Linked DNA regions of Homo sapiens: region 2 is linked to region 1. Evidence: fine-mapped expression QTL. A gene starts in region 1. The other region holds a variant in brackets. All regions are shown on one strand. Distances are between the middles of the regions. Region 1 holds the start of SOX8 (SRY-box transcription factor 8). Region 2 has its middle 37 kb from the start of SOX8.

What was found. PIP is the estimated chance that this variant, and not a neighbour inherited with it, causes the effect. A credible set is the group of variants that fine-mapping cannot tell apart.
Region 2: its variant is the best candidate, but not a certain one, in a credible set for the expression of SOX8 in whole blood (INTERVAL, PIP 0.61).

What each region holds. Positions count from the first base shown.
Region 1 is chr16:979,230-983,607 of GRCh38, reverse strand. It overlaps SOX8 (SRY-box transcription factor 8), which reads right to left and starts at 1,838. Exons shown (of 3, transcript NM_014587.5): 1 at 1,264-1,838. The coding sequence starts at 1,685. It overlaps CEROX1 (cytoplasmic endogenous regulator of oxidative phosphorylation 1), which reads left to right and starts at 1,995. Exons shown (of 3, transcript NR_164343.1): 1 at 1,995-4,007. It also overlaps a transcript of LMF1 not described here.
Region 2 is chr16:1,016,427-1,020,804 of GRCh38, reverse strand. No RefSeq gene overlaps it. Among named protein-coding and RNA genes, the nearest start is that of SOX8, 37 kb to the right of the region's middle. The variant G/A (reference allele first, on the strand shown) is at 2,291.

The DNA.
Region 1 (4,378 bases):
CGCCTGCCGTGCGCTCCGGAGCCTCCCGTGGCACCAGGCAGTACACTCCTCTGGGAGAACCGGCCGGCGCCTGTTTGGGAAGGTTGGTATGCTTACGACAGCCAAAGAAGAACAAGCCCCACGCCTCCCATCTTCCTCCTTCTATTTCCCCCTATTCCGGGCCTGCTGTTCCCTCCCTCTGGGGCTTTCTAAGGGAGGCGGGGGAGGCGGGCAGGACCCAGCCGGCGGTGGACAAAAGCGAGGCTTCCCGGGAACGGTGCCGGCCTTCGGCGGGCAGCTGGGCTGCTGTCCCTCCATTCCCAGACACCCAGAAGCCCTGGCAGGGCCCAGGCGCCCGTCCTCACTGAGCCACAGGACACACTCCTTGGGACTCTTCCCGAGGCTCACCTCCAACCGCCTGTGCGGCAGGACTTGGGGGAGCAGGGGCCTGCCGTCCACAGCGCCCCGTGGCTGCGCCCTAGATCCAGACAGAAGGCAGGAGGTGCAAATACGCAAGCTCCAAGCTCCCTTCTTCCAGGTGAGGAGCAGGATACGGGAACCAGAGCCCCAAACCAAGAGAACCATTTGAAACCCAACCAGAGGACACTCGGTGGGGGCGGCCTGTCCTGAGCAACAAGTTCTTCACTCTGCAGTCCTAATTTCTGGAAAACTGACCGGCCCCACCACGCCAAGGCGTGCACACGGCGCACCCCGTCATCTCCACTCCTGCCCTCCCTGCTTCGGACCGAGGGTGTCCAGGAGAGGGAGAAACTGCGGGGAGGGTACTCGCAGGCAAACCTGCTGCCCACCCATCCGCCTGCCGCACTCCCTCCCCATGGGTGGTCCAGGAGCTAGAGGAGCTGAGCCCTTTCTAAGGAGGGAGCACCTCCAGAGAGCCGCATGCAACTTGCTGTCGTGCCGGGCGTGCCTCCCGGGGCTGGGGCCACTCGCAACGGCTGGAGGGCACGTCGGGGTGCCAGCCATGGCCCTCCGCAGGGTGTTCCCCGCCAGGAGAACTGGCTCCAGAGCGCACCCGCCACGAGGGTGCACACCCCAGGCGCTGCCCTCCGCGGATCCCGACTCCCATAGCTGGCGCCGGACCCCGGCTGGCCAGAGGATGTTTTTCCACTGGGACCCGCCCTGACACCCGCCCGGGGTGCAGAGCCCGGAGCCTGCGTGTGGCCACCACCTCCGCGAGCTCTGCGCCCTCCAGGCCCCCGCTCGCAGTCCGAGACCAGGGGCGGCCAAGGTCCCGAACCCCGCCCCCGGGGCGCCGGCACTCACCGCCACAGCTTGCCCAGCGTCTTGCTGAGCTCGGCGTTGTGCAGGTGCGGGTACTGGTCGGCCAGCTTGCGGCGCGCCGCCTGCGCCCACACCATGAATGCGTTCATGGGCCGCTTCACATGCGGCTTGGCTTTGAGCGCGCCGCCGCCGCCGCCGCGCACCGGCATGGGCACCAGACTCCAGTCGTAGCCCTTGAGCACCTGCGACACGGCGTCGCGGATGCAGGCCGGGAAGCGCTCGTCCGCCGCCTCCGCCGGGTCGCCCCGGGCGCCCCCCACCGCGACCCCCGCGCGGCCCAGGCCCTCGGAGCCGGCGGGAGACGGCGGCGCGTCCGAGTCCGAGTCCTCCACGTGCGACATGGAGCTGGCGGTGCCGGACGGGCTGCAGGGCGGCTGGGAGCGGGCCTCGCTCATGTCCAGCATCGGGGCCGCGCGCGGAGGGGCGCGCACAGGAGACGCGCACCGGGGCCGGCGCCCGGGGCTGCCCTGCGGTCGCTCCGGGACCCGAGGTCGCCGCGCGGTGGCCCCGACCCTCGCCCCTGCCGCCGCCGCCGCCGCCGCCGAGGCTCGGGTCCCGCTGCGGGACCCGCAACAAGTTTCTTTAAGCGGCGGCCCCGCGGCCCCGCCCCGCGCCCGGCTACCCATTGGCGGAGCGCGCCCCGATCCCCCGGAGGCGGAGCCCGGCCGCCCCCGCCCCCCCACCCATAAAGAAAGCTCCGCGGCTCTCGCCGCGCCCCCGCCTGCCCCGCCCGGCGCCGCACCACGTGGGCCAGGCGCCCCACGCCTGGAGCTCCCCTCTCTGGAGCCCCGGGAAAGGAAGCGGGGCAGGGAGGCCGGGTGGGAGCAGGGGGGTCTCCGGCGCTTCCTCTCCTCTGCGGGCGCCGCGCGGCTCCTGAGAGTCCGCCCCCCGTCCTGACGCTCAGCTAGGAAGCGGGTCCTCGGGCCCCTCCCCCGACACACACACACACACACACACACACACACACACACACACACACTCTCTCTCTCTCTCTCTCTCTCTCTCTCTCTCTCTCTCTCTCTCACACACACACACACACACACAGCCCGTCTCGCGCCTGAGGTCTCGCCCGCAGGCCGGTGGCGCGGGGTCAGCTGCTGCCTGCGGTCCAGGACAGGGTCGGTTCCGCCGCGCAGCGCCCAGGCCCAGCTCGTCCAGAGTCTGCGGACAGCGCACGTCCAGGTAACGCGCTTCAAGGGGCCGCGGCTCGGAGCTGGGGGACCCCGGGCCGCCCTGCCCATACGAGTGCGAGCGTGGAGAGCGCGGGCGGGGGCGCGGTCCCGGGGGCCGGCCAGCTGGAGGGGGCGGGAGCGCTGGGCGGGGCCTGCGCTGACCCCGGCGCTGAGTCCCTGGGGCCGCCGGGCGGATGGCGTGGCCGGACGCGGGGGCCCCGGGCCTTCCGGGCGTGACCTAGGGCTCGGGGGCGGGGAGGCCCCTCCGGCGGGGCGGCCCTGGGTGGTCCGGCAGAGGCGGAGGCCGCTCCGAGCCTGTGAGCCCTGGGCGCCTGCGGAGGCGGGGAGAGGGCGGGGTGTGCCGCCCTGGTGGGGACCGCGGGGTCGGAGAGGGGACATTGCCCCCCCCGAGGCGAACGTCCAACCGCGGGTCCGGGTCCCCGCCCAAGGCCGCCCCGCGAGGTGGCCTCGGCCCGGCCGTCCCCGAGGGTGGCTCGGATCCTTTCAACCAGCGCGCTGGAGGCGAAGGGGCTGCGCCATTCCGGGTCAGGCAGCCAACGCGGGACACGCGCGTCTCCGAGCTTGCGGCCCGCGAAACCCGGGTGACCTACCGCGCCGGTGCCCTCAAAGCCCCCACGCCCGGGCCGGTGGCCGCTGCAGCCACTGAGCCACGCGGTCTCCCCGGCCCGGTCGGCAGAAGGAGCTGGTCCGTTACTAGAAAAGTCCAGATGCAAAGTCGGGGGTCGTGCTGCCGCTTCCTGCCAGCGCACCGCACCCACCTGGGGCCGCCACCGACCGCACAGGACGCGCCTCCTACCCCCTGTTCTGGCCCGGCCGAGAGCTGGTGCCCCCAGCGGCCGCCCGCCCCCGTCCGCAGACCCCGGGGCCCTTGCTGCTTTGCATTGGGAACAACCGGAGCCAGGCCCGGAGCTGAGGGGGCCAGGGCCTTTGGAGGAAGCATTGGCCTCCAGGCTGAAGAGCAAGGGCCGTGTCACCTGCCCGGAGGGCGGTCTCATCTCTGCAGCCAGGTCAGAGGAAGCAGCGGTGGGGAGACGGAGTGCGCGAGTTGGGAGGCTCCACGCATCGTAGGTGGAGAGCTGGCTGCCAGCCTGGCCTGCCCTCTCTTCCCCGTCCCACCATCTCGCTTGGCTCCGGCACCTGCCTGGGAAGACCCACACCTCCGTCTGCAGTGCCTCTTCCCCCTGGAGGCCCTGCCCTCCGCTCGGGGTCCCCGCATCCTTCCGTGGCCCTCAGAGCATCGCCTGGGGCGCCCGCGGAACTCATCTGTTAGGCCTGGGATGCAGGCAGGCAGAAGTGGGGGTTTAAGTGGAAGCAGTGAGGGTGGGGGTCCGGTCCAAACTGTGCCACCTTCCACCCCCTGCCCCTGGGAGAGCAGACATCGCCCACTCGGGCTCACAGTGCCATCCGGGTGAGGACCTCCGTGGAGAGCTCTCTTTGCCAAAGAAAAGCAGTTGCATTAGGTCTGCGAGCAGGCAGGGTGGCCTCTTCCTGGCTCCCCATCCACCAAGGAAGCTTCAAGTCCCTGGGACACAGGTGGGGAACTCCAGCACCCCTGGAGGAAGGGAGACTGAGGTTGGGGAGTGGCATCCAGGCCCTGACTCTGGGGCACGGTGGTCTGTGCAACTGAGACCCTGCCTCAGGCTCCAACAGCGCCTGCTCCTTTCCCCAGGTTGCAGTGATCACCAGGGGAGGTGCTGGGCGTGCAGGCTGCCACAGGAGGGGTGGGGAGGTGGGGAGTCTCTGTGGCGGGGTGGTGGGGGCCTAGGCCAGTCAGCTGAGGACGTGTTGGTGCACTCCCGGGAGGGCGGTATGTGGGTGAGGATCCCCATGCAGAGTGGTGCCCACAAACCCCCCTTCCAGAGTCATCTCTGGTCCACCTTGAAGTCCCCAGGAAAATGACCTCG
Region 2 (4,378 bases), 37 kb before region 1:
TGACAGAAGGGAGGTGAGAAGTCTGGTCTCCCCCTGAGGCTTTCCCCCTGCCATGGGTGGGGTGAGCCTCCCCACCGCCTGCCCTCCCTCCACCCTCGTGCTACAAAAGGCCCCCCCAGGGCTGCTGCCCTCAGGCCCCTGAGCCTGCCTGGTCCTCCCCTCCCACCCGCCCTGAGAGCAACACGCACTCACACCCCTCCCTGTGCACCAGGACCGCACAGAGCTGCCAGGGAGCTGCAGATGCCCCCAGAGAATCGTCCTTGTGCCCGGTAGCACCCAAAGGGTTTGTTATTCTGGGGCCCGAGGGCACAGCCAGAACGGGTCCTGCAGGTGGAGAGGGGCTGCGGGAATGCGTTTTTCTGGGAGGGGTCTGCTGGCTCCTGGGACACTGGGAAGCCAGCTACTGCCCCAGAGGTGGCCTGGAGGGACCTTCTGCAGACAGCTGCCCTGCCCCCCCTCTGGCTGTGCCCTGCAGAACCCAGAAGGGGTAGCTTACAAGGCGTGGAGTCAGCTCCACTGCAGCCAGTGGTCCTCACATATCTGGCCAACAGGCGAACCCACAGGGCTGTCACCTCTGCTACCTGAGGGCCCGACGGGGAGTTCTCGACCGTGTCCCGGCCAAACCCAGCGCCTCCAGACACCAGCAAAACAGCCACATGCACCCCGCGCTATCAGCCACATGCCTCATGCATCTGACCCCAACAGACCACGCCTGTAGAGCTTGGGGAGAGGCTTCAGCGATCATTGCAGCAGGAAGCCGGCCAGAGAGGCGGCCCGATAGAAAGTCACGGCTGCCAGACACTCAAAGGCACTTCGAAAGAGAAAGTCAACGGGACAGGTCCCAGGCATATTTAGGAGCCGCAAAGCCCAGCTGCGAAGTGGGGTCCCCGTGCGCGAGGCCTGCAGGCGCCTGCGCCCTCCGCTGCCTTCCCTCAGGGCTCTGATGGGTTTGCCATTTCCTAGCACGTGGACGGGAAAGGGCCCGTGGGCTGGGGGTGACCGGACGGCGGGGGGTCAGGACAGCGCCTGTGGGGGTGGCCTTCCGGCTCGACTCAGCCGAGACGCCAGCGCAGGGCCAGGGCCGGGGCTGCTGCCGGCCGGACACCCGTGCTGTACGGCGCTCCTCGCCCCGGGGCTTCATCTGCCCTTGCCGGAGCCTTCCCGGCTCGCTGGTTTGTGGCCGGCTTAATCCCACACTAATTAGATTTCTGCGCTGGTGATGAAAGGGCTCCGTGCGTGCCAGCCTGCTGGCCGGCCCAGCCCACTGCTTGTTTTGCACAGAATTTTAATTGTTTCCAAATTAATCCTCAGAATCGAGTGAGCTCAGCGCAGATAAGCCAGCTGCAGGGAGGGCAGAGTGCCGCGTTCCCATCTTCCCAGCCAGCGCGGCCGCCGCTCCCGTGGGGTGGCACGGGGAGGCCGCCTTCGGACATGACGCGATCGCCCAGCAATGTCCTGTGCCTCTTCCCGCTCAGCGGCTCCGAGAGCCCCGCCAGGCGCCCGGCTCTCGGGGAGTTTTCCTTCTGTTTGCTCTTGGCTCAGCTTCCCTCTTAATCCTATTTTCGCCAGTTTCTATCCAATTTAAGACAGCTCCTGTAAGTCAAAATTAATTACCCCGTGGGCTTCCAGCCCTGTGGTCTCGCTGCTCACTGTTCCTGCAACCTGGGGCTGGGCTCCAAAAGGAGGAGGGGAACACACCCCCAATGTGAGGGGGGCTGGGGGCCCCACCCCCGAACCAGACTGAATGTGGGGCGAGGTCCCCACCCCACATTTCAAAGGACCAGGCTCCTCCATCAGGAAGTCCTCCCTGACTGCCTCAATCTTCCTGAGCTCCCCTGACACCTAACGCTGGGCACACTCTTCCCACCACACCTGTGCCTGCCCATGCCCACATCCACGCATGTGTGTCTGCACCCACCCAGCTCACCAAGGGCCTGGGCTCCATCCACGCATGTGTGTCTGCACTCACCCAGCTCACCAAGGGCCTGGGCTCCATCCACACATGTGTGTCTGCACCCACCCAGCTCACCAAGGGCCTGGGATCCATACCAAATGTGTTCAGCCACATAGAAATGAATAAAGGCCAGGCACAGTGGCTCACACCGGTAATCCCAGCACATTGGGAGGCCAAGGCACGGTTGTTTGAGCCCAGGAGTTTGAGACCAACCTGGGCAACATAGCGAGACCCCATCACTACAAGAAATACAAACATTAGCCGGGTGTGGTGGCGTGCACCTGGAGCCCTGACTACCCAGGTGGCTGGGGCAGGAGGATGGCTGAGCCCAGGGAG[G/A]TTGGGGCTGCAGAGAGCGGTGATGACGCCACCGCACTCTAGCTGGGGGAGTGACAAAGGGAGACCCTGTCTCAAAAAAAGAAAATAAATAAGGACACCAAAAGCAACAAAAGGCACACAAAATGTAGAGAGATATTTGAAGTTAAAGACTTTTTGTGTCTCACAGGCCACCATCGAGAAAGTAAAAAGACAACCCACCAAATGGGGGGAATATTTGCAAGTCATTTATCTGATAAGGGGATATATAATATCCATAATACATCAAGAGCCCTTACAAGTCAACAATAAAGGCCGGTTGCGGTGGCTCACACCTGTCATCCCAGCTCTTTGGGAGGCCGAGGCTGGTGGATCACCTGAGGTCAGGAGTTTGAGACCAGCCCGGCCAACGTGGCGAAACCCCATCTGTACTAAAAATATAAAAATTAGCCGGGCGTGGCGGCGGGCATCTGTAATCCCAGCTACTCGAGAGGCTGGGGCAGGAGAATTGCTTGAACCAGGTAGGTGGAGGCTGCAGTGAGCTGAGATGGTGCCATTGCACTCCAGCCTGGGCAACAAGAGCGAAACTCTGTCTCAAAAAAAGAAAAAAGGAAAAAAGAAAAAAAATAAAATAAAAAGACAAATCACCTAATTTAAAATAGCAAAGGATCGAAACAGACATTTCTCAAAGAAGATACACCTGTGGCCAACAAGCACGTGAAAAGATGCTCCGTGTCACCAGCCACCCGGGAAACCCAAATCAAAGCCACGATGAGAGGCCACCTCACACCCATGAGGATGCTTATGTCAGGAAAACCAGGCTGTAGGTGTTGGTGAGGATGCGGAGAAACAAGTCTTCACGCACTGCTGGCAGGAATGGAGAATGAGGCAGCCAGTTTGGAAAACAATTTAATGGTTCCTCAAAAGTCGGAACCTAGAATTAGCACATGACCTGGCAATTCCGTTCCTAGCCATCTACCCAAGATAACTGAAAATATATGTCCACACACACATTTGTATATGGATGTTCATAGTACTATTCACAATAGCCAAAAAAAAAAAAAAAATGAAAGCCACCCAAACATCCACTAACAATTGAATGGATAGATGGGGGACAGTTCACCCACGCAGCGGAACACTAGCCTCACAGAGGAAAGAGATTCTGACCCTTGCTACCGGATGGATGAACCTTAAAAACATGAGTTCAGTGGGAGAAGCCAGACACAAAAGGCCCCGCATCGTGTGATCCCATTTATGTGAAATGTCTTGAATAGGCAAACCTGCAGCGACAGAAAACAGATTGGTGTTTGTCTAGGGCTGAGGGAATCAGGAGTGGGAGGATCCGGAAATACTGATGTCTAAAGGTTGAGTGATTTCTTTCTTTGTTTTTATTTTTTATGATTTTTTTTTTATTTTGAGACGGAGTCTCGCTCTGTCGCCCAGGCTGGAGTGCAGTGGCGCAATCTCGGCTCACTGCAAGCTCCGCCTCCCGGGTTCACTCCATTCTCCTGCCTCAGCCTCCCCAGTAGCTGGGACTACAGGCACCCGCCACCACGCCCAGCTAATTTTTTGTGTGTTTTTAGTAGAGACGGGGTTTCACTGCGTTAGCCAGGATGGTCTCATGATCCGCCCGCCTCGGCCTCCCAAAGTGCTGGGATAACAGGCGTGAGTCACCGTGCCTGGCCAAGGTTAGGTGATTTCTTTTGGGAGGTGATAAAATGTTCTAAAACGGATCATGCTTAGTTCGCACCACATGCTGGCATCCAAACATCTCATGTGCCCCATAAATATATATACCTACTGTGTATCCACAAAAATTAAAAATGAAATAAAATCGATGGTGATAATGGTTACACAATTCCAGCACATTTAGTGGGCGTGCTAAAATCATTGAGCCGTCCATTTTAAAATGGTGACTCTTATGTGAATTATGTCTGAGAAATAAAATTATGAAAAAATTAATAAAGAGCAAACAAGGAAAGAAAAAAAATGCCAAAGAAACTACAAAGTTCAGAGAGTGCCCAGAACCCTAAAGAGGCAGCCAGTGCCAGGGTGGGTCACACTCCACACAGAGCTTCCCGGCGGGCAAAGCAAAGATGGAAACACCCGCAG